7 linked regions of the Homo sapiens genome follow. The protein of the gene in region 6 interacts with the protein of the main gene of each other region in a pairwise test. Each region holds a gene or a part of one and is shown on either strand. Other genes may lie near its edges.

Evidence for each region.
Region 1: the proteins of IMMT (region 6) and CHCHD10 interact in binary tests that used the Homo sapiens proteins (3 or more experiments, as listed by UniProt).
Region 2: the proteins of IMMT (region 6) and CHD3 interact in a two-hybrid assay, tested with the Homo sapiens proteins (2 studies listed by BioGRID and IntAct).
Region 3: the proteins of IMMT (region 6) and ATXN3 interact in binary tests that used the Homo sapiens proteins (3 or more experiments, as listed by UniProt).
Region 4: the proteins of IMMT (region 6) and NIPSNAP3A interact in a two-hybrid assay, tested with the Homo sapiens proteins (one large-scale study listed by BioGRID and IntAct).
Region 5: the proteins of IMMT (region 6) and PDHA1 interact in binary tests that used the Homo sapiens proteins (3 or more experiments, as listed by UniProt).
Region 7: the proteins of IMMT (region 6) and EXOSC10 interact in a two-hybrid assay, tested with the Homo sapiens proteins (one large-scale study listed by BioGRID).

The regions. Positions count from the first base shown.
Region 1 is NC_000022.11:23,765,334-23,769,393, reverse strand, and holds CHCHD10 (coiled-coil-helix-coiled-coil-helix domain-containing protein 10, mitochondrial isoform b precursor), read left to right. Parts: upstream 1-1,421; 5' UTR 1,422-1,519; coding exon 1,520-1,560; intron 1,561-1,800; coding exon 1,801-2,020; intron 2,021-3,097; coding exon of another isoform or gene 3,098-3,118; coding exon 3,119-3,266; intron 3,267-3,367; coding exon 3,368-3,387; 3' UTR 3,388-3,560; downstream 3,561-4,060. Other genes in the region: uncharacterized protein C22orf15, read right to left, coding at 3,835-4,060. UniProt on the Homo sapiens protein: May be involved in the maintenance of mitochondrial organization and mitochondrial cristae structure.
Region 2 is NC_000017.11:7,898,789-7,902,288, reverse strand, and holds part of CHD3 (chromodomain-helicase-DNA-binding protein 3), read right to left. Parts: intron 3,279-3,500; coding exon 3,087-3,278; intron 2,947-3,086; coding exon 2,746-2,946; intron 2,394-2,745; coding exon 2,256-2,393; intron 2,000-2,255; coding exon 1,878-1,999; intron 1,732-1,877; coding exon 1,558-1,731; intron 1,438-1,557; coding exon 1,296-1,437; intron 1,046-1,295; coding exon 914-1,045; intron 1-913.
Region 3 is NC_000014.9:92,103,783-92,107,849, forward strand, and holds the start of ATXN3 (ataxin-3 reference isoform), read right to left. Parts: upstream 2,801-4,067; 5' UTR 2,771-2,800; coding exon 2,747-2,770; intron 1-2,746. UniProt on the Homo sapiens protein: Deubiquitinating enzyme involved in protein homeostasis maintenance, transcription, cytoskeleton regulation, myogenesis and degradation of misfolded chaperone substrates.
Region 4 is NC_000009.12:104,754,183-104,757,682, reverse strand, and holds part of NIPSNAP3A (protein NipSnap homolog 3A), read right to left. Parts: intron 3,133-3,500; coding exon 2,983-3,132; intron 1-2,982.
Region 5 is NC_000023.11:19,357,427-19,360,926, reverse strand, and holds part of PDHA1 (pyruvate dehydrogenase E1 component subunit alpha, somatic form, mitochondrial isoform 1 precursor), read right to left. Parts: intron 3,276-3,500; coding exon 3,208-3,275; intron 2,012-3,207; coding exon 1,903-2,011; intron 1,439-1,902; coding exon 1,274-1,438; 3' UTR 179-1,273; coding exon of another isoform or gene 94-178; 3' UTR 1-93. Other genes in the region: MAP3K15 (mitogen-activated protein kinase kinase kinase 15), read left to right, coding at 94-178. UniProt on the Homo sapiens protein: The pyruvate dehydrogenase complex catalyzes the overall conversion of pyruvate to acetyl-CoA and CO(2), and thereby links the glycolytic pathway to the tricarboxylic cycle.
Region 6 is NC_000002.12:86,167,963-86,171,462, forward strand, and holds part of IMMT (MICOS complex subunit MIC60), read right to left. Parts: intron 3,420-3,500; exon of another isoform or gene 3,384-3,419; coding exon 3,246-3,383; intron 2,883-3,245; coding exon 2,787-2,882; coding exon of another isoform or gene 2,779-2,786; exon of another isoform or gene 1,351-2,778; intron 1-1,350. UniProt on the Homo sapiens protein: Component of the MICOS complex, a large protein complex of the mitochondrial inner membrane that plays crucial roles in the maintenance of crista junctions, inner membrane architecture, and formation of contact sites to the outer membrane.
Region 7 is NC_000001.11:11,089,870-11,093,369, reverse strand, and holds part of EXOSC10 (exosome complex component 10), read left to right. Parts: intron 1-1,772; coding exon 1,773-1,877; intron 1,878-2,190; coding exon 2,191-2,356; intron 2,357-2,701; coding exon 2,702-2,816; intron 2,817-3,500. UniProt on the Homo sapiens protein: Catalytic component of the RNA exosome complex which has 3'->5' exoribonuclease activity and participates in a multitude of cellular RNA processing and degradation events.

The sequences.
Region 1 (4,060 bases), on a different chromosome or scaffold from region 6:
ACTCCCCTTGCCCCTTGACCTGCTCCTTCCTTATGGAGGGGCCTCCTCTCTTACTTGGTGACCCACACCCCCACTTCTGGGTGCTTTTGCTCTTGGTTGCACCCTGCCGACAATCCCGGTGTCAGGAGTCCTCTGCAGGCACAGCAGTGATGAGGGACAGTCCCTACCTTCCCCCACCTAGGAGTAATAATATGACCACTGCAAAGTCACCCAGAAAAGACCATAAAAACCTCAAGCTCAGCCGGGCGCGATGGCTCATGCTTGTAATCCCAGCACTTTGGGAGGCTGAGGTAGGAGGATCATGAGCTCAGGAGTTGGAGACCAGTTTGGCCAACATGGTGAAACCCCGTCTCTACTAAAAATACAAAAATTAGCCAGGTGTGGTGGCACGAGCCTGTAGTCCCAGCTACTCAGGAGGCTGAGGCAGGAGAATTGCTTGAATCCGGGAGGTGGAGGTTGCAGTGAGCCGAGATCGCCACTGCACTCCAACCTGGGCGACAGAGCAAGGCTCCGTGTCAAAAAAAAAAAAGTAAAAAGTAAAATTAAAACCTCAAGTTCTCGAAGAGCAGGAAAGCATTCTAAATCCGCGCTCCAGCTCACCTGGCCTGGAACGAAGCTGCTAAAATTGCGAGGCCGCAGGCTTCAAACTTGCGCTAGATTTGACCGAGCCGGGCAAATGCTCCTAGGCCTTTGGGATAGACACGCTGCTCGGATGTCGCGTAAAGGCCGTTAGTGTCGGGGGTTGCACTCGCGGGGCCAGGGACTAGGTGGGGGCGGTCGGGCCGGCCCGGGGAATCCGGTGGGGTTCAGGGCCGCGCGGGGGGCCTCATATCCCCCGCGGGCACTGCGTAAGGCTGCCAGCATTGGCAGCGCATTTTGGCCAACAGTCGAAGACGGGTTGGGACGCCCCCTCGTGGGAGTTCTGGGGATGGGTTGCTCCAGGCCTTCCCCAGGGCCGCGCTTCACTTCCCTAGGCCACCGGAGACTCCCAGGCCACGCGGTGGTCAGCAGACCCTGTCTGGAGGGAGGGGACAGACAGCCGAGTCCGGGAGGGGGCAGAGAGCGGAGTCCAGCCTGGAGCCTCGCGTCCCCTTCCCAGCTGGCCCCATCCCGTCGCCTCCCCGTCTCCTCTCCCCTCCAGGGCTCGCAACAACCCCCAACTCCGCTCCCTGCCCTCTGCGGTGGTCCTAACAGAAGGCACTGTCGCCCTCCTTAAGCCCTCGGCGCTTTGCGACACTGGCCCCTGTCCCCAGAACCCGCACAGCCTGCCAGGCGCAGGGAGGGAGCAGGGTCCCATTTCCAGCCGAGACCCGGAGCTGCTGGAAGGGAGATGTCCGGAGGACGGGAGAAGGGGGATAGGGTTGGGGGCAGTGCCGCCTCCCGCTGGGGGCGTGTTCCTGAGGCCCCGCCCGGGGCCCCGCCTTTTTTGCGCCGGCTGTGACAAGCGCTGCGGCATTTGTCCCCGCGACAGCACCGCTGCCGCCGTCTCTAAGGTCGCCCGGGTCCCACCGCCGCCACCATGCCTCGGGGAAGCCGCAGCGCGGCCTCCCGGCCAGCCAGGTGTGAGGGGGACAAGGGCCCTGTGGGGAGGGGGTTAGGGAAGTGTGGGCACTCCCCTAAGGGCGTCCGCAGAGTGACCTTGGCTGCTGCTGCGCCATCTTGGCGGGGGGAGGGGTGGGGGTGCAGCACCCACGTGTGGAGACGTGGGTCGTCCATCTCTCCGGGGGTCGTTTCCAGGAGCTGCAGCCCTCCAGCCTGGGGTCTGGCCAGGATTAACCCTGCTTCCTCCCACCCCCGCAGCCGCCCAGCCGCGCCCTCTGCCCACCCGCCCGCGCACCCACCGCCCTCGGCAGCCGCCCCAGCCCCCGCCCCTTCGGGCCAGCCGGGGCTCATGGCTCAGATGGCGACCACGGCCGCAGGGGTAGCCGTGGGCTCGGCTGTGGGACACGTCATGGGCAGCGCCCTGACCGGAGCCTTCAGCGGGGGGAGCTCGGAGCCCTCCCAGCCTGCTGTCCAGCAGGTGAGCAGCGAGTCCAAGAGAAACTGAGGCAGGATTATCTCGAGGCCACACAGGGAGCTGCCCAAGTGTCCAGTGAGGAGTGTCCGCGTGTATTCACCATTGCTTCAGCCCAGGACTCTGCCCGGGAAGGGTCCTAGTCCACTGGTCTTGAGTTCACTGTCACTTAGAGGCAGGCTTCCCGGCCTCTCCCTTGAGGCCAGGGTCCCTAAGCTCCCAGGGAGAGACACCAACCAGCCCTTTAAAGATGGGAAACCCAGGCCCTGAGGGCTCAGAGACTCGCCCAAGGTCACCTCACCCTAGCAGAGGGGAGGGATGTTGGATTTCCTGAGCCCCTGTTCTCCCCACACCCAGGTCTGGGCACTGTGGCCGCTGGGCGCAAGGGCGAAGGGGAGCCACTTCCCTGATGACCTTTCCCCTGCTAGGAACCCCACCGCCGTAAGCCAAATGTGGCTTTGTGGCTAGGTCAGGGGTCATGAGGATTAGTGTAGCTGAGCCAGGAAGGTGCTAGAACTTGTGGGGGTGGGGCTCATACTCTGAGAGTACAGGCAGAGTACTGGGCTTTCCTAGAGCCTTCTCCTCCCTCTCCTGCACCCGCCCAAAGTGCCCATTAGAAGGCAGCAGAGGCCAGGCGCAGTGGCTCATGCCTGTAATCCCAGCACTTTGGGAGGCCAAGGCGGGTGGATCATGAGTTCAGGAGTTCGATACCAGCCTGGCCAACATAGTGAAACCCCCTCTCTACTAAAAATACAAAAAATTTGTTGGGCATGGTGGCGGGCGCCTGTAGCCCCAGCTACTTGGGAGGCCAAGGCAGGACAACCACTTGAACCCGGGAGGCGGAGGTTGCAGTGAGCCGAGACTGCGCCGCTGCACTCCACTCTAGGTGACAGAGTGAGACTCTGTCTCAAAAAAAAAAAAAAAAAAAGGCAGCAGAAACATGCTGTCTGTAGCCGCCTCTGCTGCTGGATCACTCAGCCTGCCTAGGACCCTTGGGACACCCAGGCTGGGGATGTGGGGAGGGGCAGGTGGCCCCAGGTTTGAAACGCACCTCCAGGTGCCAACTCCAAGCTGATCCTGCAGCCTCTTGCACTGTACCCCCAGGCCCCCACCCCCGCTGCCCCCCAGCCCCTGCAGATGGGGCCCTGCGCCTACGAGATCAGGCAGTTCCTGGACTGTTCCACCACTCAGAGTGACCTGTCCCTGTGTGAGGGCTTCAGCGAGGCCCTGAAGCAGTGCAAGTACTACCATGGTGAGTGAGTGGACCCCGACTCAGGCGGGGAGGGGGAGAGGCCAACCCTCCTCTTGCACCTGCAGGCTGACCACCAGCCTGTGCTGCCCCTCCCTTCCCAGGTCTGAGCTCCCTGCCCTGAAGAGGTCGGTGCAGACTCGGGGGCCAGTCCTGCACCCACCTCTACCCCTCGCCGACAGCCAGACCACAACACCAGATTGTACCCAGATAGCTGGGATTGGAAGTGAGGAGGTTTCTCACCCCACAGATAACCCAAGACACAAATGTGCAATTAAAAGTTTATTTTAGACCACAGCCTGTTGTGTGCCTCTCTCGATGGCCTGTCTTCAGGGAGCTCCCTGGCTGATGAGGTGGGGTCAGGATGGATGTCTCACTACAGTGTGCAATCCATCCCCTTAATCAGGGCCCTGGGTGGGGAGGAGGAGCCCTGTTGCAATCTGCACTGTGGGTAGCACAGGACAGATTCCTTGGGCAGTCCAGAGTGAGGTGGAGAGGCATTAGTCGGTGATCCCAAGGGCATCTGACTCTGAGGGTGGAATCCCAGGATGAACCCATGGTCTCCCCCTTATCAGGGATACCTGCCACCTCTACCCTTCTTGTCTCTACCTCTGCATCCCATTCTCTGCACCCACAGCTTAGGTGCCCCTGGCGGCCTCAAATCCTGTCTGACCTTGCCCCTCTTGCTGATGCAACTTCTCAGCAATTCCAGATTCTGCAAGAGGAGTCCTGCTGGGTTGTTGTCTGTTTGCACCTGATCACACAAGGCAGAGGTCATGGCTAACCCCCTTGGGTCT
Region 2 (3,500 bases), on a different chromosome or scaffold from region 6:
CACCACGCCCAGCTAATTTTTGTATTTTAAGTAGAGACAGGGTTTCACCATGTTGGCCAGGCTGGTCTTGAAACTCCTGACCTCAAGTGATCTTCCTGCCTCGGCCTCCCAAAGTGCTGGGATTACAGGTGTGAGCCACCACGTCTGGCCCTCTTGTCACACTCTCTTGATTTAAGATTGTTTCTCCTAAGGCAGAGGTTCTCTGAGACCCATGAAAAGGTTTCAGGGAAATCCAGGAACCCCCTGAAAATCCGTACAAAATTGTGTCATTGTATGTGCAGTTTTCTGGTGAGTAGACCCAGAGCTTTCATCACATTTCCAAAGGGTCTGTGCCCTTCACCCTCACCTGCCAATAAGATGAAGAAATAATACCAGTCCCTAAGGAGGCAGATGGCTCACCCTCCCCCTTCCCTCATGCAGCTGAAAAGGAACTAGAGCTGGACCTCAACTTCCAGCAACCTTAAGAACAGGCATCAGAGGCCAAGAATGAACTTGCTATACAGTAATCCCAGCACTTTGGGAGACCGAGGCGGGCAGATCACCTGAGGTCAGGTGATGGAGACCATCCTGACCAACATGGTGAAATCCCGTCTCTACTAAAAATACAAAAATTAGCTAGGCATGGTGGTGCACGCCTGTAATCCCAGCTACTTGGGAGGCTGAGGCAGGAGAATCACTTGAACCCAGGAAGCAGAGGTTGCAGTGAGCCGAGATCGTGCCACTGCACTCCAGCCTGGGCAATAAGAGCGAAACTCTGTCTCAAAAAAAAAAAAAAAAAAAAAAACTCTTACAGGAGGAATCTCCTCATTTGTCACACCAGAGCAGCCACAGGAAGACCGTAAGAAATTAAAGTCTGGAGGATGAGGAGAGGGAAGAGGAAGCAGATGTAAAGACAGCTAAGGGCACAGGTCACCTGCGAGAAGATGAGCACTCGGTGTCCTTGCTCCTTCAGCTTTCGCAGCATCTTCTGGAGCAGCATGAGCTTCCCAGACGACTTAATAAGTGCCCCACCCTCATAAGCCCCACTGGGGAGTTTGGGGGACTCCTGAAAAGGGAGGAGAGAGGAGGAGGAGGGGGTCAGTTGGAAACATGCCCCCATATTCTTGCCACACCTAGAAGGCCAGATGCCCGGATCCAGCTTCCACATGTTCCCAATTCCTCCTGTTCTCAGACACCCAGTCCGTGGCCTTCCAGCCCAGCTCCACCCCTGTGGCTCAATACCCACCTCCCCACTACTCCCCACCCATGTTTTCTGAGAATGGGCGTTCGATCAGCTCCCTGCTCTGTGTATCTACCATAGCAGCCACGGGAAAAAGGTATGGATGGTTGCAGCACTTCTTAAGATCCATCATGATATTAAGCAGCGACACCTGGTTCCCACCACCTCGTGAATTCAAGGCCTCAAAATTTCGAGTCAGGATGTATTTGTAGTATTTCCTAAAGGCCAGGAAAGGGGTGTAAAAGAAACATAAATAAAGGAAGCAATTATGATATTGCACTTGGAACGCTCCCATCAATCCCCAAGCCCTACTCCAGGCAGCTCGTCTTGCATCTTACTTCTGCATGGGGCTTAGCTCCACCCGAACGATGAGCTCTGTCTTGGCTGGCATGTTCTTAAAGACATCTGCCTTGAGTCTCCGCAGCATGTGTGGCCCCAGCAAATCATGCAGTTTCTTGATCTGGTCCTCTTTGGATATGTCAGCAAACTCCTCCAGGAAGCCCTCCAAGTTGCTAAGAGCCAGAAGAGAAGAAAATTAACAGGTCGGCAAGTTCCTTGCCCCTGATCTCAGACTTACCACCTCAGATTAATCCTCTACCAGCTCATTTTATCTGCTCCACCTCTCATCTCTGCCAACTACCCTTAGGGAACCACTTACTTAAATCTCTCTGGGGTGAGGAAGTTCAGGAGATGGAAGAGCTCCTCCAGATTATTCTGCAATGGGGTTCCTGTCAGCAGCAACTTATGATCTATCTTGTAACCATTGAGAACCCTGAAAAACTAAAAGATGGGGCAAGGCAAGGCAGGAAAATGGGCTTATTAGTGACAAGTGACCGACCCACAGCATCAGCCTTTCCCTGCCCCAGCTCCCATTTCACTCAGGATCAGAGGCCCCAAATCTCTGGCCCTCTCCCTCTTCCAACCTGGACGTCCTCCCAGACTACAGAAAATCCCCAGAATTTTTGTTGTTTTTTAGGACCAAGGCAAGTGGGAAGTCCACAACTTCAAGTTTTTTAGGTCTGGAAACCTCACTCACCTTGGACTGGTTGTTCTTGAGTCGATGGGCCTCATCTACCACAAGACAGGCCCAGCGGATGGAACCAAGTGCTGCCTGATCAATGGTGATCAGCTCATACGATGTCAGGAGAACATGGAACTTCACCTGTGCCTCCCTCTGCCAACATAATTATTGCCCATTCAGCTGCCACCTGACAACCATGCACCTACACCTCCAGAACCAGACACCTTGTCCTGACTGTGGCTCCCAACAGGAGCCATTACTCTGTTCTCCAAGCAGGGATTACAGACCATGGCTCCTAAACCTCTGCCCACATTTCCAGTACCGACAGATCCATGTATGCCCCTGGGAGTACCTGCCATATCTCTAGGATGGTAGTGCAGAGACAGGAGGACAGGTGGAGGAAGAGGAGAAAGGTGAGGAGGGGAATAGAGAAACTGAATTCCTGGCTGAGAAAAAGAAGTGACAGCTTTGAGGGTCTCAGAGGATATGAGGTAGAGGGTCTTACCTTCATCTTAAAAGCTTTCTTGCCCCCTTTGATGGCATTGTCCTCAAAGGAGAATTCATTCTCACGAATGATGGCCCGGCTGTCCTTGTCACCCGTGTATGTCACCACATAGAATTTGGGTGCCCACATCTGGAACTCCCGCTCCCAGTTAATGATGGTAGAGAGTGGGGCACTCACCAGGAAGGGACCTTTTGTGTGGCCCTGGGAGTCAAGAATGGGGGCAGCATAAGTCTAGGCTAGAGGCCGTATACCCTAGTCCTCTGCCAGCTACACCCCTTTATCTTCCCCCTCCCCACTTCCCCAGTCCAGGCGGTCCCCTTCAAGGTCCTAGAATCCAGCACCTCCTTGTAGAGTGAGTAGAGGAAGACGATGGTTTGTATGGTCTTGCCTAGCCCCATCTCATCAGCTAGAATGGTGTCAGTGCCCTGGGCCCAGGAGAAGCGTAGCCAGTTCAGCCCTTCCAACTGATACATGTGCAGGGTGCCTCCAGTGGCTGTGATAAACCGTGGCTGAGTCTCATATTTCACGGTAGGCTATAGAGACAAGAAGTCAGAAAGCTCAAGGAAATAGTCGGCGGCTCCTCCAGTCTTAGTCTCTTCCTCCCTGGCATGGATACCAAGTTGGATTACAATTCCCTCTACTATGGCCTGAGTTTACAAAAGTTCTCACATCTAGTCTTCAGCCCCTCCCCCTCATTCCTTAAGACAATATCCAGCAGCACCATGGGGAAGGGCCAGCTGGTGACAGAGCCACCA
Region 3 (4,067 bases), on a different chromosome or scaffold from region 6:
AGGAAATGGTTGCAAGGCCCTTCGTAGGCAGATATTGCTACCTACACAGCTTCTTTAGGGCCAAAGTTGGTTCTCTGGCTCTCCAAACCCAGGACCTAGCAAGGGTTAAAGGTATATTGCAGAGGGGAAGGCAGTGAACGGAAAAATGGCACAGTAAGCCCAAACATTCCCAGAATGGACTGTATAGGAGATTAACAATTGGGCCATATGGTTATAGGTGCGTACTCTTGAGGACGCCCAAAAAACTAAATTGTTGAATCTTCACATGCTATGTAGATACAAGTTGATGATAATGGTAAAGGTATTCCTGAAGTATCTGTAGGCCTATACACATGCTGATAATTAAGAGGGACTCTTTTTTCCTTTTCTTTTTTTTGAGACGGAGTCTCGCTCTGTTGCCCAGGCTGAAGTGCAGTGGCACGGTCTCGGCTCACTGCAACCTCTGCCTCTCGGGTTCAAGCAATTCTCCTGCCTCAGCCTCCAGAGTACCTGGGATTACAGGCGCCTGCCACCACACCTGGCTAATTTTTTGTATTTTTAGTAGAGACGGGGTTTCACCATGTTGGCCAGGCTGGTCTCAAACTACTGACCTCATGATCCGCCCGTCTGGGCCTCCCAAAGCACTGGTGTGAGCCACTGCACCCAGACTAAGAGGGATTTCTTTCGGGTAAGTAGATTTTCACTAGGCTAGCACTCAGCTTTTTTTCATCCCATGGGTCAGTACAAATGTGTCCCAACTAGGTAACAATATTGTTAAAAATCTTGTCTAATTCTCAGGAAGTAGTGTGGAACATGTTTAAGGCCTTCCATGTTGAAATGTGGTCCCACACCAAAGCCTTTGAAAATTAATAACAAAAATATGGCCGGGTGCGGTGGCTCACGCCTGTAATCCCAGCACTTTGGGAGGCCGAGGCGGGCGGACCACCTGTCAGGAGTTGGAGACCAGCCTGGCCAACATGGTGAAACCCTGTCTCTACTAAAAATACAAAAATTAGCTGGGCGTGGTGGCGGGCGCCTGTAATCTCAGCTACTGGGGAGACTGAGGCAGGAGAATCGCTTGAACGGGGAGGCGGAGGTTGCAGTGAGCCATGATGGCGCCATTGCACTCCAGCCTGGGTGACAAGAGCCAAACTCCATCTCAAAAAAAAAAAAAAAAAAGTACGTGTGTATTTTTCACGCACTCTACTCAGCCAAGCAACCAAATCTCTATTGTCTATGATTTACGAGTCATGTCAATCAAGTCAAAAAATTAGTGACAACTATACGACTGAGTCCTTCCTCCCCCACTGAACATCAGCCTATTTCAAAAGTTTCCGAGATGTTTTCTACAATGAAAAGCATTGTACTTAACAATTTGTTCCAGGCACAGTGGCTCACGCCTGTAATCACAGCACTTCGAGAGGCCGAGGTGGGAGAATCACCTGAGTCCAGGAGTTCGAGACCAGCCTGGGCAACACAGCGAGACCCCGTCTCTCCCAAAAACATTACCTGGCCCTGGCGATATGCACCTGTAGTCCCAGCTACTCTGGAGGCAGAGGCGGGAGGATCGCTTGTGCCTAGGAGATCAAGGCTGCAGTGAGCCATGATCTCTCCATTGCACACCTGCCTGGGTGACAGAATGAGACCCCATCTTTAAAATAAAAATTAAAAAAAATTTATGCTACAGATTTACATTTGGTAAATGTATTCTTTTGTCTTTGCTTTATTTGTTGTGTGTGTGTGAATTTTAAATGTCTGGGATAAATGATCATTTATAAGTATTTAATAAAACAAAAACCCTTTGCTCCTCCTATTAAATAACAGCCTTACCAGCAACTCTTTCCAAACACGAAACTATTATGAAACATGATACCATGTGCCAAAGCTGTCCTGGGGAAGGCTTCACTCACACACAAATGGCTGGATAATAGTATGAGAGAAACGAGGAGTTTCTTTACATATCACAAACAGTATCTTCAAGTGCATGGTCACGGAAGAGTTAAAGGGACAGCAGGCTAGGCAGACTACAACAAAATCATCCCAGTCCACTCCTAATACCTAAAAACAAAGCTGGCCGCCTGCTCCGGAAAGATGGGAGTACCAAAAGAAACCAAACCCAAACATCCCGTAATAAAAACTCTTGTGACGACTTCCCTGTTTAGGGGCACGCCGGGTTTCCTACTTCACTTCCTAAATGTCAGGCCCTACAGTGGGCGAGCCAAGGTCTCCTCCCTCGGGAGGCTCGCGGACCTAGTGCAGGGGAAAGACACGAACAAGACCCCAAAGATCTACGTGTAGGGAAGACTCCAATATAGAATTGAGCAGTCCGGAGGAGGAAAAGTTAATTCTGCCAGGATTAGGGTAGGAGGGGTTGAGGGAGGTGTCCCAGAGATGACTCTAGCTAGACCCTAGGGAGAGGGAAGGATTGGGGAGGGGTGAAGGAATCCTCCGAAAAGCGATGGAAAGTGACGGAGAAAGGCAGAAGCAAACCCACTGGGCGCCACCCCACTCCCGTGTCCCGAGACGCCCCCGGCCCCGCCCATACTCCCTCCCGGCTCCCAGGGCGGGGGCCGCGGGGGAAGTAGGGGCGTAGGTGATGCTCCCCTCCTCGAGCCGAGGAGGCGGGAGGCTGCGGCGTCGCCCCTCGCCGGGCGAGATCGGCATGGGGGCGACTCGGGCCCCACCCAGCCCTCCGAGAGGCGGTGATGCCGCGCTCCACGCCCGCCACCGCGCGGCAGACAGCTCCCCACCGAACGCGGACACTCACTTTCTCGTGGAAGATGGACTCCATGTTTATTTGTCTGGAGCCAACGGCCCCCACGCCGAACCACCCCCTCCAGCTCCGCCCCCTGCCCCTCTCCTCCGCCCACCCCGCCCCTCCCCGGCCCGCCCCGGTACCCCGCCCACGTGCCGCACGCAGACCAATCACCCGTGAGGATGCGAGTGTCGTGAAGCGAAGAGCGAGTGAACGCCGGGGACACGTGACCTTGGTAGCGCGTCCTCCTAGCTTCTGTTAGCGGGCCTTCTGGGGGATGCTACATCGCCACCTGCTGTCTGGAGGATCTTCTCCGCTTCCCACCCATTTCTATGGATTCTTAGGTTTCTGGGGGGAGGTCTGGACCGCTCACCTGGGTTCTATGTTCTTTTTGTTTTCCACTTTGACTTTCTACTGTGTTCATATAACTATTTACTTTCTTTCTCCTCCTCCTGCACTGAAAGTTTAGTAAGAAAAAAGCCATCATTACATTCTCCCAAAACCCAGCACTTGTATAAAAATGATAGCTAGGCCGGGCGAGGTGCTTCACGCTTGTAATCCCAGCACTTTGGGAGGCCGAGGCGGGCGGATCACCTGAGGTCGGGAGTTTGAGATCAGCCTGACCAACATGGAGAAACCCCGTCTCCACTAAAAATACAAAATTACCCGGGCGTGGTGGTGCATGCCTGTAATCCCAGGTACTCGGGAGGCTGAGGCAGGAGAATCGCTTGAACCCGGGAGGCCGAGGTTGTGGTGAGCCGAGATCGTGCCATTGCACGCCAGCCTGGGCAACAAAAGCGAAACCCCTCCCCCACCACCCCAAAAAAGAAAAAAAATGATAGTTAATATTTACATAAGGCTTTCTATGAGCTAGGCACTTTTCTAAATGCTTTGCATATATTATCAAATTTAATACAGCAAACTTTGATGTAGGTGTTGATGTTATTCATACACATGAGGAAACCGAGGCACGGAGAGGTTAAGAACAGCACAATGTCCAAGGTCAGATAGTAAGTTGTCTTGCCAGGATTCAAATCCAGGTGGCTTGTTACCAGTGTAGGTGTTCGGACCCTTTAGAGGGAACTTAGAAGTCCCATAAATTGTGTGGGAGACGGGGAGGTAGCAGCGGTTTGATGAAACTTAAATGGAAGGATAGGTGCAGATCTTGCACCTTGAAACCAGATTAAGGTGTACTTTTTTTTTTTTTTTTTTTGAGACGGCCCTCTCTCTGTCCCCCAGGCTGGAGTGCAGTGGCACAATCTCCCCGCTCACTGCAACTTCTGCTTCCTGGGTTCAAGTGATTCTCTTGCCTCAGCCTCCCAAACAGCTGGGA
Region 4 (3,500 bases), on a different chromosome or scaffold from region 6:
ACATGTATATCGATTTCTGTATTACGTATGTATTACATAAAGAAGGTCATACTACATTTCCAATGTTTCTTTAATGTAAACAATATTAACATAAACTTCATTTGAGCACAACTATGTGTTTATAATAATACTTTCGATGACAACTACTGACATTTATTGAATGATAACTATGTGTCAGGCCTAGTTTTAAGCATTTTAATGTATTAACTCATTTAATCCTCATAATAATCTAGGTCCTCATAATAATCTATCATTTTATAGATGAAAAAACTAAGGTATGGTGAGGTTTACTTACCCAAAGTCAAAAAGTAAGTAGTGTACCTGGGATTCAAACCCAGGCAGTCTGAATCTGATTATTTCCTTAATATAAAGTAGAATTTAAGTTGACAGAACCAAAGAGCATGTCTTATATATATGTACTTACATATAGTGTATATAGTATACACTGTCCTCCAGAAATGATGTACTGATTACCAATTCTCCTAACACTGAGAATGAATTTAAGATTAAAAAGTGTATGAACACACATTTTCTGTAGTTTTTAAAAAAATAAAACTTAATATGTGCAGTATAGAAAATTAAGGTAGAGGCTAGGTGTAGTGGCTCAGGCCTCTTATCCCACCACTTTGGGAGGCCGAGGCGGGCGGATCACCTGTGGTCAGGAGTTTGAGACCAGCCTGGTGAAATCCTGTCTCTACTAAAAATACAAAAATTAGCTGGGCATGGTGGCACACAGCTGTAATCCCAGCTACTTGGGAGGCTGAGGCAGGAGAACCGCCTGAACCAAGGAGGCGGAGGTTGCAGGGAGCTGAGATCGTACCTGCACTCCACAGAGCGAGGCTCCATCTCAAAAAAAAAAAAAAAAAAAGAATATTAACATAGAGACTTAACCATTTATCTCACTGAAATATGACTACTATGTATGTTATATACTTTCAAATTTCTTTTCTGTATAATTTAGCACACCTATACACATACACACCCAGGCATATTTTCTAGAAGTAATACTGGCAAAAACAATAAAAATAAGGCTTTTATTTTTATTGTCAAATTTTGGGGGAAGATTAAGCTAATATGAACCCTACACAGTATCTGAGTACTTATTTTTTCCTGACCTAATACTATATCCATGTAAGTATACCTTTTATAAGGTAAAGAAATGGCATCTCATTATTGTTTTAATATGCATTTTCTTTAATATATATTTAGTAGCCATGTGCATGTCTACTTTTGCATAAATTTTTATTTTTATTTTTGCTTTTGAATTTCATTTATGGTGATTTTCAGGCATCCAGATAGTTTGAGCCTTTGTATAATAAAATCATAAGTTGATTTTTTTTTCTTCATAGTTTCTTCATTTGCTTTTGGCTTACAAATATAGTCCCAATCCACATTATTAAATAAATTCATCTACATTTTGTTTTACCAATTTTATGAATTAAATTTTTTTCATTAAAATATACAATCCAGCTTGACTTTATTTTCGCATATGGTGTGAGATAGGCATCTAATAATTTTCATAACAGTTTCTCCTCCATGTATTTTCCAACCTGAATATACATCTGTTTTTATATATTCTATTTTCTTATGATAGATTATTACAAGAAGTTGAATTTCTGCATAAAGATGGGTATATTAGGTTTGAGATGTCCATTGGACATAAAGAGATAATAGAAAGGCAACAGGATATTATGATGAGTCTTTCAAATATTTGTTAGCTATTCTTAGACATTTATCCTTTCTTCGTTACTTTTTTTTTTTAAGAGACAGGGTCTCACTATGTCGTTCAGGGGTTGGAGTGCAGTGGTGCAATCATAGCTTACTGTAGCCTTGAACTCCTGGCTCAAGCAATCCTCCCACCTCAGCCTCCCAAGTAGCTAGGACTACAGGTGTTTGCCACCATGCCCAACTAATTCTTAAAATTTTTTTTGTAGAGACAAGCTGTGTTGCCCAGGCTAGTCGTGAACTCCTGGGCTTAAGCAATCCACCAGCCTCAGCCTCCCAAAAGCGCTGGAATTACAGGTATGAGCTACCTCATCAGCTCTTTTATCCTTTCAGATAAACTTTACAAATGTTTTTCTGAATTTGCCACAAAAAATCTTGAAATTCTGATTGAAATGTTTTTCAACATTACAAGTTAAATACCCCAAGTATGTGTTTTATTAAATAAATTTATATCCATATATAAATTTACCTCAATATATATACATATTTACTATATCTCCCTATATAGATATATATAAAACTGGTGGAAAATGGGTAAATTTTTATGAGGGGGGTTTTCATATTTATACAAAACATATATTACTTTTTTGCTTAGAGATAATCTCCCTACCCCAAATAATATTATTTTTAAAAAATCAATAAAAGTACATTCAGAGGAAAAAGAAATGATGAAAGTAACAGACTATTTCTTGAGGTTCCTTCATTTTTTTTTTTTTGAGATGGAGTTTTGCTCTTGTCACCCAGGCTGGAGTGCGATGGCACGATTTTGGCTCATTGCAACCTCCGCTTCCTGGATTCAAGTGATTCTCCTGCCTCAGCCTCCAGAATAGCTGGGATTACAGGCCCCCACCACCATGCCTGGCTAATTTGTTCTATTTTTACTAGAGACGGGGTTTCACCATGTTTGCCAGGCTGGTCTCGAACTCCTGACCTCAGGTGATCCACCCCCTCAGCCTCCAAAAGTGCTGGGATTACAGGCCTGAGCTACCGTGCCCAGCCGAGGTTCCTTCAGTTTAAAAAATTTAATCATTTTGATGTATCAGGGAAAACAGCTATTCAGCATTTGAAGGTTTCATAAGTTAACATTCTAAATAAATAAGATGTAAAACAGATTTTCTCAATTTTAAAAATTACAAAAAACTAAACATTTGGCAATAAATAATAAAACATACTCTATAATGAGAAAGAACCTGACCCAAGGAACTTAGGTCACAATATATATTACAATTTCATATAAGAAGAAATGGACAATTGTACCTCTGTTGAGTGCTCCGTACTCTGTGTGGAACACTCCAACTAGTTTTGTGTAGCCTAGATTGACATGAGCATGAACTGCCCTTTTAAATGCATCACCCCACAGAGCTGGCCCACCAGGTTTCATCTGAAAAGTGGCCAGTTCATAGACTCCTGGAATAGGGAGAAAAAGAATTTTTCAGAAAACATTCAAGCAATATCCAATCACGTTTCTCAGTGAATAGTCTTTCACTATCTACACACACAGATTTGGAGGATCAGACATGCATACATATTATGTAGACATGTTTATTATATTTGCACTCTCTGCTTTTATGCTTAGAAAGTCCTTGCCCATGTTTAAGAGTGAGTTGTTATGCTTAATCATACAGATGACAAAGAAAAAGAACTGGAAGCTATTATAACTATTATCTGAAATATTTTTAATCTATAACATTTGTTAAAAAACTGTTGAGAATGTATAATGATATAGAATTTTGAGCTGCAAAAGTCTATGCTTTTAGAAAATAAAAGAATAAAAG
Region 5 (3,500 bases), on a different chromosome or scaffold from region 6:
TTATTTTCATTAGGTTTTTAAATTAGGGACTGCAGTTTTAAGCTCTGTTGGCTTGAAGCACTGACTCTGAAGACAGCTGTGTTTGTTTCCCAGGGGTGGTCTCCTCTGCAGACTCTGGAGTGCGGTCTCCCAGTACAGAAGGGCTCAGGAGGCCTCAGAAACCAAAGACAAGGCTTGATACCAATCAGCTAAGCTGTGGCAGAGTGTCCCACCACGCTACATGTTTTGTTAAAGCTTCTGTTAGTGTATACACGAATTCCGCTGTGTTTACATATTTAAAAATGCCATTGTTCAATTAATAGTTTAAGAACTTGTTTTAAATACTGTCCTGAGTTTCTTTTGAAACCTGTTATTTATAAACATAGAACTGTGTGTATTGTGAAAACAGTGAGCCTTGGTTTTGACCTCCCGGAATATTAGGAAATTCACTTGTAGTCCCAGCTATGCAGGAGGCTGAGGTGGGAGGATTGCTTGAGCCCAGGAGGTGTGGAGGCTGCAGTGAGCCATGATCACACCACTGCACTCCAGCCTGGGCAACAGAGCCCGACCCTGTCTCAAAAAAAGTACACCCTTCAGCACTTGCTGGAATGGTGAAACAAACAAGGGGTATTTAACAAACATGGAAGCTGGGACACTGCCTCAGAACTGGTATGGTACTTCAATTTGAGAAACACAAAACTGATACGAATGTGCCTTGTAGTTAATGTTTGATATGAACAGAAAATAGCTTCATATTTATACTGAATGTGTAAGTAGAGAAAACTAAGTTATGTGGCCTTTGAAATGATTACAAAATTGGAATGATTACAAAAGTCTTATTTTAAAATGGAACTGTCCTCTTGCCTGATAATAAATATTGTATCTTGTAGAGAAATGGTCAGCGCGAACAGGCTGCAGCACCAGCGCTGCTCGGGGTGGGTGCTATGGTTGGTAGAATGCTGTGAGGGGCCCCGCCATAATGGTCTCCTCCCAAAAAGGTGGCTGGGGGCAGGGGAAACAGGCATACAAGGAATTGTTCTTCCTTTTCATAATTAGAGTATTTGTTCAAAGTATACTATTTTAAGTCAAAAATAATCTTTAAGCACTCAATAATTCATCTTTTAATGCACTAATGTACAAACTGCATGCAATTACTACCTGCTCAATCTACACACTTAATGGAAGTTTCCAAGAATTTCATTGAATTTCATTGACTGGGTTTTCTTCCTCCTTAACCAAGTTGAGAACACTGTCTGGTAGCCCCCTGAAGGTATAACCTCTCCTTCTCCTCCCCTTAACTGACTGACTTAAACTTGATCCACTGATTGGCACCACGAACTTCAAAAGGTGGGTCGCTGGAGTAGATGTGGTAGCCCAGCTCTTCCAAAGGTGGCTCAGGATCGGCCGTGGCAAACTGGGCAGCATCCTCAATCTCCTTCCTCACTTCCACATCAATTTCCTAAAAATTAGGTAACAGTGTAAAAGGTTTTAGAATGAACAGCAGCTTAGGTACCAACTAGAGTTCTGCTGAGGACCTGTTGCTGGTGTAACTCTTTAACTACAAGTACGAACAGTTGCTAATTCAGAAGATTTTGGAATACAGATTTCTAGGGTGTATCTATTTTATGAATTAAAAATCCACAGTATACTTTTAGGAAAAAAGAACCATACTACTGTGGGGGCTTTGCCACTGTGATGGTGGTTCACAGTCCACCAAAATCTGAAATCTGAAGAGTAATACAATTTTGAATAGAGGAAACTAAAGGAAAAGCCCCCACCCCAAGGGACTTTGGAACTATGGAACTATTTATGTCCCAGGACATCACTTTCTGGGCTTGGAGGAACCCACACAAACTCTGTGGCCACCCAGGGGTGGCAACTTTTAAAGCCAACCTTCAAACCACCATGAACAAGTGACTGTACCTTTAGTTCTTCCACACTGGCAAGATTGCTGTTCACCATCCTGTCCTTGAGAAGCATAATAGGGTCACTCTTACTTCTTACTTCCTGAATTTCTTCTCGTGTACGGTAACTATGGGGAGGGAAAAGTAGTAATCGATCAGTAAGAGCAGTTCCAGTAGAGCAAGGACGGCGTGATGAAACATGATATGGGGTTGGATTGTCCCAATGAGGTGAAATACAGAAGTGTGTTTCTGAAACAAAGGGGCATACCAATGCTTATGTCACTATAGGCGTGGCAGAGTTGTTGTTATACTTTCAAAATACCAGAACGCAGCCTAACATTCTGTAATAACTGCTTCTGTCTTTTCTAGAAAACCGTACACTGGTGAGTCACATGGCTTCCCTGGCATTCCGACAACAGGGGCCAAGTTTTTGCTTGCTGCTTTGATTTAGATGTAAGGTTCTAAAGAAGTGTCACTTGTCCCACCCATTTGGGCTCCTGTATACTACATGGGTGGGGACAGCAGAGATGGTGTGTGTGGTGATAATTAGACTTTGAGACATCAGAGCGCCAAGCAGGAAATCCATGTGCCTTGCCTTTCTCCCTTAAGTCCCCCTAAAGAAGCACAGCCAGCAAAACCAATGTATCTTATGCCTATATCATCTGAAGTAACACTAAAAGGATTCTACCATTTTCAACAATAGATTTACACAAAGTGCATTTTTCCATATACTGTGCTCTCTACATGATTTTTCCTTAGAAGTCCACTCTACAAAGGCTTATTTATTCAACTGTGTCAAAACTGGGATTCCAGAATCACAGGCCAGAGCTACTAAGCAAAAAAGTAAAATTCATGCCTTCCTAGTGGAACCTAGCTTTTTTGATTGATGTATTTCAACGGATTGAACACCCAGTTACCCTTAGCTCTATACCAGACAGAGGAACATCTCCAAATTCTGATCCTCTTCAGGTAGAGTATGCCAGGTGTAGACTTGGGGTAATGCCTACAAAAGCTAAATGCCCCCAAGATACTACACTACCATCAGCCCTGTTTTATGTAACAATTTCCCTCTACAATTAAGGTATATAACACTCTTTCTTTAAAAATTGCTGCTTGTGCTCACACACACTATACACTGTAGGCATTTTCAGAAAGCTTTCTTATTAGGAGGCACTGCTTTCAGATAACTTGATGCCCAACACAACTGCGTACATGAAGTGAACTGGTATCTAGCTCCAAAAGCAAATACTGAAATGTGTTGCTTTTGCCATGTAACACCATTCAAAGCCCACCCCTATGGAAACCACACTGCCCATGAGCGTACCTGACTCCAGGGTCACTCATACTGTGTCCGTGGTAACGGTAAGTCTGCAGCTCCATCAGGATGGGCCCCTAAAACAGAACCGGTAGGCAGTTAGTTAGTTAGGAACGATGACTGGAAGAACAGGCCGGCAATCCACGGCCTCAAACGCAGGCCCTTTATTAAGCGTCCAGTGTAGTCTTATCAGATCTTCTGAGTTGTCACGAATTTCTTATTGGTTGACTGATCTGTTCTCATTTCTAGCAAGTATTGATTGCATATTTCATCTTTCTCATTTTTAATAAGGCAATCTGCCA
Region 6 (3,500 bases):
ACAATCGTAACAGGGAAAAAGAGGTGCCCATTTCATCCCCTTGGCAAGAAGGAATACTCATAGCAAAACACTTATGTTGACAAGATACAAGAAAACAGACAAGAGAAAGAAAAAGACAAATAAGAAAACAGGTCAAAAAATACAAAACAAAACCCAAAGGCAACTTGAAATGGACAGTGTTCTTCCATAAAAGGACTCAAGAAATAGCAGACACCAATGTTCAAGAGGCTTCCATCTATTAAGATCACATTTCTATATGCTGTTTCGGGAATACCAAAAAGTAAAGCAAATGACAATTTTAGATAATTTACTAAAATGCAAAAATAAATGGTCATTTGAAGAAAGGCGGCTAGTAAGAATACTAATTTAATAATAAATGGGCCGGCGCAGTGGCTCACGCCTGTAATCCCAGCACTTTGGGAGGCCGAGGCAGGTGTATCACCTGAGGTCAGGAGTTCGAGACCAGGCTGGCCAACATTGTGAAACCCCGTCTCTACTAAAAATACAAAAATTATCCAGACATGGTGGTGGGTGCCTATAGTCCCAGCTACTCAGGAGGCTGAGGCAGGAAAATCGCTTGAACCTGGGAGTTGGAGGTTGTAGTGAGCCGATATTGCACCACTGCACTCCAGCCTAGGTGACAGAGTGAGACTCTGTCTCAAAACAAATTAATTAAATAAATGATATCACATGACAAAAAATAAAAAATGTATTTGACAAGCGAGAAAAAAAGATGATTTTGAGGAAAAGAAGCATAAACTAGCAATGAACAAATGGAATCTGAGGAACTACAAATGGTACCTCTGCAAGAAAGATAAGAGGAAAACTAATAAGGAGAAAATAAAAAGAAATTGACAGAAGTGATAGAAGTGAAATGAGAGCAGGGGATACAACAAGAGAAAGGGGCAAGGGAGAGAAACCGTGGTATTTGGATCCCATGACATGCGTGAGTGAACAGTGGACATCAAGTACAGGCAGTTGTGAACCACTTTATGGAGGCCACAGAAAGTGGGCTGCTGGGAGGCACCTGCTGCTTCCAGCCCTCTTCAGAGGTTTAGTCACTGTCCTTTGATCCTTGATAAATATTTCACATGCAAATGCATATGTGTATATTTTTAAAGTCAAGTTTGAGGGGGAATTAAGAGGTGACAGATAAAATTCTGAAAATTTTCACTTTGCCCAAAATGAAAGATGAGAGGAACCAGGCAAGGAAAAGAACAGCTGGAACAGCAGACATCTCCATCTTACGTTTATAACTTAATTTCAAGGTGCCCAAGTGATAAAGAGAGAAAAGTGAAAAGTGAAGAAAAAACAGGACTAAAAGAAAAAAGAAGTAGGAAAAATGAAATATTTCACTTAGTTAGAAGTCATTTATTAAATATTCACAAATATTTGTAACACAATCAGAAGAATACAAAAAATCAAAAACGAAAATCCAAATCCAAGTAGGAAAACTAATGCCATAGGCACAGAATGACACCTATGCTATTCTAAGAAACTTGGTTCCTCAGGGTAGGGCAGAACCAGCACATTACAAGGGAAACAGGAGCAAAACAAATGACAAGGAGATCAAAAAACTATAAACAGCTGCCATGAGTACTGAACTCTCTGTCCAGCAAAAAGCTACATCCCACGACCTCCAGAGACATCAACATATTATAGCACAGTACAAAAAATTATGTTACATGTGCTTTAAGACAGAAAAATAAATTGATAAATATCTATTATCTTTTTTAAACCATCAAAAAATTTAAGAATCCTGACCTACCGAGGACAGCAAAAATAATAATAATGATAAAAAAAACTTGGCCAGGTGTGGTAGCTCATGCCTGTAATCCCAGCACTTTGGGAGGCCAAGGTGGGAGGATTTCTTGAGGCCAAGAGTCCAACACTACCCTGACCAACACAGTAAGAGCCCATCTCTTAAAAACAAACAAACAAAAAAACCATAAAACTGAAACTTAAAAAGGAATATGCTTGTTAGCTGGAAACCAGCGATGTGTAGAACATTCCATGCCCCACCAGTGTCAGATAAAAGCACTACTAGAGAGTCCAGAGGCTAGATGATAAGGCAGTGTAAGCCATTCTGACTCCAACAAATAAATTTACAATTATTAATAAACAATTATTTACAAGTATAAATTAACAATTATTAATAAAAGACTCTTAGGGCTGGGTACAAGGGCTCAGGCCTGTAATCCCAGCACTTTGGGAGTTCAAGGTGGGAGGATCACTTGAGCCCAGGAGTACGAGACCAGTCTAGGCAACATAGTGAGATGCCTGTGTCTATAAAAAATTTTTAAAAAATTAGCTGGGTATGGTGGTACACGCCTGTAGTCCCAGCTACAGAGGAGGCTGAGGTGGGAGGATGGCTTTGGCCTGGGAGGTTGAGGCTGCAGTGAGCCATGACAGTGCCACCGCACTCCAGTCTGGGTGACAGAAAAGAGCCTATCTCAAAAAAATAAATAAAGGACTTTTAGGCAAGCTGCTAAAACATAAATAATCAATTTCTGTTTCCCAGAGTATAAAGAATCTTTAGCGCTAACATAATCTTTAGTATTATTTGGAGTTTTCACCAACTATACACTAAGAATAGCCTTTGTCACTTAGGTAAAAGAAGTTTAGATGAAATGAAGGTGATGAATAAAGCAATGCCACTAAAAAACAACCGCAGCAACAAAAGAAACCACAACTAGGTGATAGATGACAAACTTGTGCTGATAGTTTAAGAAGAGAGCAACTGGGAGATGACCCAAAATCCTTAAGAAGCTGTCTGGTTTACATACACTCAATTTTAACTTGTTCTTGTTTTTCCTGTTGTGCAAGGCGAGCTGCAACTTCTTCAGGTGGTCGCTCCCTTATAGAAGATGAGGATGCTTCTTCTTGCAGCAAAAGTAAATAAGAGGAAATCAAATTTCAGCATAGAATTTTAATAGCTAACAGGGATATAAAAAAAGCATCGTTTGTACTGGCCAGTTATATCAATGCAGGGCATTTTTGTGTTAAGAATTCTAAAACCATATCATTACTCTTAATGATTCCAAAATGAAGAAATAGGAATCAGGCTTTAATCTTCTTGTTTAAAAAGATACATTCGGACATTTAAATTTTAAAAATTTCCTAAGAAACTCTGAAGACCTAAACCTAGTGTAAATGTATACTTAGTGTCTACGTGTTGCCTAGGCATTAAATAGTTCTGATGAGTGTATCATGTATAAAAGAACAAATAGAAATAATTAAATTACCTGAAAGTGCAGGTGTGGGTTTTCCTTCACCAATTTCAGGGTGATCAGTTTTTAAAGATTCCTCAGGCTGAACTGCAGGGGCTGGGACCGACAGGGTATCACCTGCTGCAGAAATAATTTGAGCCGCTTCTGTAGGTGCTATAAATATATGTTACTCATGGTATTTATACTTTCCTGGGTTAACAGAGAAACACACAGAAATTTACTACCACCATCACCACCCACTTCACATCTGACTCCTTAGAGACACAAATA
Region 7 (3,500 bases), on a different chromosome or scaffold from region 6:
CGTCTGCTTTAAAGTGCAAAATAGATGAGGACTCCCTGCAGTTTCATTCTAAATAGTGTACTTCTATATTTAATGTATGCAGTCCAGGGACTTCTTAGTTATTTTAGTGGCCACATTACACTGTTAAATCATATTAGAATTTTCAGCCCAATTCAGAGCTTTAAAGAGTCAATCGAGTATTGGGCATGGGTAATTACTGTCCTACCTGCCTTTGAGCAAATAATGCATTAATTACTTGGCATGACATACTAATGACCTTTATTGATCAACTTTGTAAAATTTTTATTTTTTTATTGACAAAAATTGTATAGGCGATCATTTACATGGTTATGTCTCAATAAACCTATATTATAAGTCAAAAATGCATTTAATACACCTCACTTACCAAATAGCTTAACTGAACCTGCTTTAAATGTGCTCAGAAAACTTCCATTAGTCTACAGTTGGGCAAAATCTTACACAAAGCCTATTTTTATAATACAGTGTTGAATATTCATCTCATGTAATTCAAGTAGCATTGAATACACTTCTGAAAGTGAAAAACAGGTTGTGGCCGGGCACAGTAGCTCATGCCTGTAATCCTAGCATTTTGGGAGGCCAAGGCAGGTGGATCACTTGAGGTCAAGAGTTCAAGACCAGCTTGGTCAACATAGTGAAACCCCATCTCTACTAAAAAATACAAAAATTAGCTGGGCGTGGTGGCGTGCACCTGTAGTCCCAGATACTCGGGAGGCTGAGGCATGAGAATTGCTTGAACCCAGGAGGCGAAGACTGCAGCAAGCTGAGATTGGACCACTGCACTCCAGCCTGGGCAACAGAGTGAGACTCCCTCTCAAAAAAAAAAAAAAGAAAAACAGGGCCAGGCACAGTGGCTTACGCCTGTAATCCTAGCACTTTGGGAGGTCGAGGCAGGCAGCTCACAAGGTCAAGAGATCGAGACCATCCTGGCCAACCTGGTGAAACCCTGTCTCTACTAAAAATACAAAAATTAGCTGGGCGTGGTGGTGCATGCCTGTAGTCCCAATTACTTGGGAGGCTGAGGCAGGAGAATCGCTTGAACCCGGGAGGCAGGTTGCAATTAGCTGAGATCACGCCATTACACTTCAGCCTGGCAACAGAGCAAGACTCTGTCTCAAAAAAGAAAAAAGAAAAACAGGTGGTAAGTGTACTTGAAATATGGATTCTACTAAATGCAAATCACTTTCACATCATTGTAAACTCAAAAACTTACAAGTCAAACTGTCATACATTGGGGACCATCTATATATTTATTACATACAACTTGATGTTTTGATACATACATTGATCTGTTCTTATATATGTATATTTTCTTACACAAATGTCTCTGAATACCAATCTCTTTAAAATGTTAGGTAATTAGGTGGGGCACGGTGGCTCACGCCTATAATCCCAGCATTTTGGGAGGCTCAGGTGGGCGGATCACTTGAGGTCAGGAGTTCGAGACCAGCCTGGCCAACCGGGTGAAACCCCATCTCTACTAAAAATAAAAAATTAGCCAGGTATGGTGGTGCACACCTGTAATCCCAGCTACTCGGGAGGCTGAGGCAGGAGAATCGCTTGAACCCTGGAGGCAGAGGTTGCAGTGAGCCCAATTCAGAACTGTAAAGAGTTGCAGTGAGGCAAGATTGCGCCACTGCACTCCAGCCTGGGTGACAGAGTGATACTCCATGTTAAATAAATAAAATGTTAGGTAGTTAACTCTGCTAACCTCAAAAGGAAAAATGCTTAACCAGTACCTCTTCTACTCTTAGGGTATTTTACTGGATGAAGCCTCAGGTGTAAACAAGAATCAACAGCCTGTCCTCCCTGCCGGCTTGCAGGTCCCCAAAACGGTAGTGTCCAGCTGGAACCGTAAGGTGAGGGCTTTTCAGATTAACTAGAGCTCTTGATGTCAGCTTCATAACAGAGATTTTGCTCATTCTAACATGCATTTCTGTTCTAATTTATTAGAGAACTGGCCACTGTCTCCTTTAGTTTGTTCTCATAAACATACACAAACTAATTACACCCTCTTCTTCTCTTTCTGGAGACCTCTACATGCACATACATTCTTAAATGAATGAATGACCTTTGCGATGTTCTTGTCTCCTCAGAAGTCATAAATTGGAATTTACTTTTCTAATTCATCAAGTTGCTGTGTTATAAAGTATTTGTATTCATTGATCATAGGCAGCAGAATATGGCAAAAAAGCAAAATCTGAAACTTTCCGGCTGCTTCATGCAAAAAATATCATCCGACCTCAGCTCAAGTTTCGAGAGAAGATTGACAATTCCAACACACCATTTCTTCCTAAAATCTTCATCAAACCCAATGCTCAGAAACCTCTCCCTCAAGGTAAATAGTGCATACTTTGCCTGTGTTTGAGTCTCACTTTATTTGATGCAAAAACCAGGAAGGGTGTACAGGTCTCTCTTCTTTGTTCAAAGGGAGCCCACCCTCCTTTGTTCAAAGGGAGCCCAGTTCAGCTATTCCAGAGGCTGAAGTGGGAGGATCACTTGAGCCCAGGAGGTCAAGGCTACAGTGAGCTGTGCTTGTGCCACCACACTTCAGCCTGGGGGACAGAACATGACCCTGTCTCAAAAAAAAAAGCCAAAAAACAAAGGGAACCAGTTTACCCCTGTGTAATTAGAAAAGACATGAATGTGCTAATGATGTTTTTGTCACTGCTGGGATCCCCAGCTCTCTCTAAGGAAAGGCGGGAACGCCCACAGGATCGTCCTGAGGACTTGGACGTCCCCCCTGCACTGGCTGATTTCATCCATCAGCAGAGAACCCAGCAGGTTGAGCAAGACATGTAAGTGTTGGCCTGTGTCTGACTTTCTGCCGTGAGTACTTACCTTTTTGCCACATTTTCACTTTTGTGGAGTATATACATGAAAACAATCTGAGGAGTAGTGATTTCCTCCTTACACCCCAACCTGGGCCTTAGCAATAAAACCTGCTGTTTGTGTTCACAAAGGGCCTACACAGCATTGCCTCATGTAAACCTCACTGCAGTCCTGAGAAGTAGCAGTTGCTCTTATTCCCATTTTATAGATGTAAAACACGAAGGCTGGGCGCGGTGGCTTACGCCTGTAATCCCAGCACTTTGGGAGGCTGAGACCGGTGGATCACCTGAGGTCAGGAGTTCGAGACCAGCCTGGCCAACATGGTGAAACCCCATCTCTACTGAAAATACAAAAATTAGCCAGGCGAGGTGGTGTGTGCCTGTAATCCCAGCTACTCGGGAGGCTGAGGCAGGAGAATCGCTTGAACTTGGGAGGTGGAGGTTGCAGTGAGCCAAGATGGCGTCACTGCACTCCAGCCTGAGTGATAGAGTAAGACTCCATCTCAAAAAAAAAAAAAAAAAAAGATGTAAAAGCAAAATTAGAGATGCAGGCTTCTTGTAGAGTTGGAACTTCTTTGAGACAGGGTCTTGCTCTGTCGCCCAGACTGGAGTGTGGTGGCATGAACACAGCTCACTACAGCCTTTACCTCC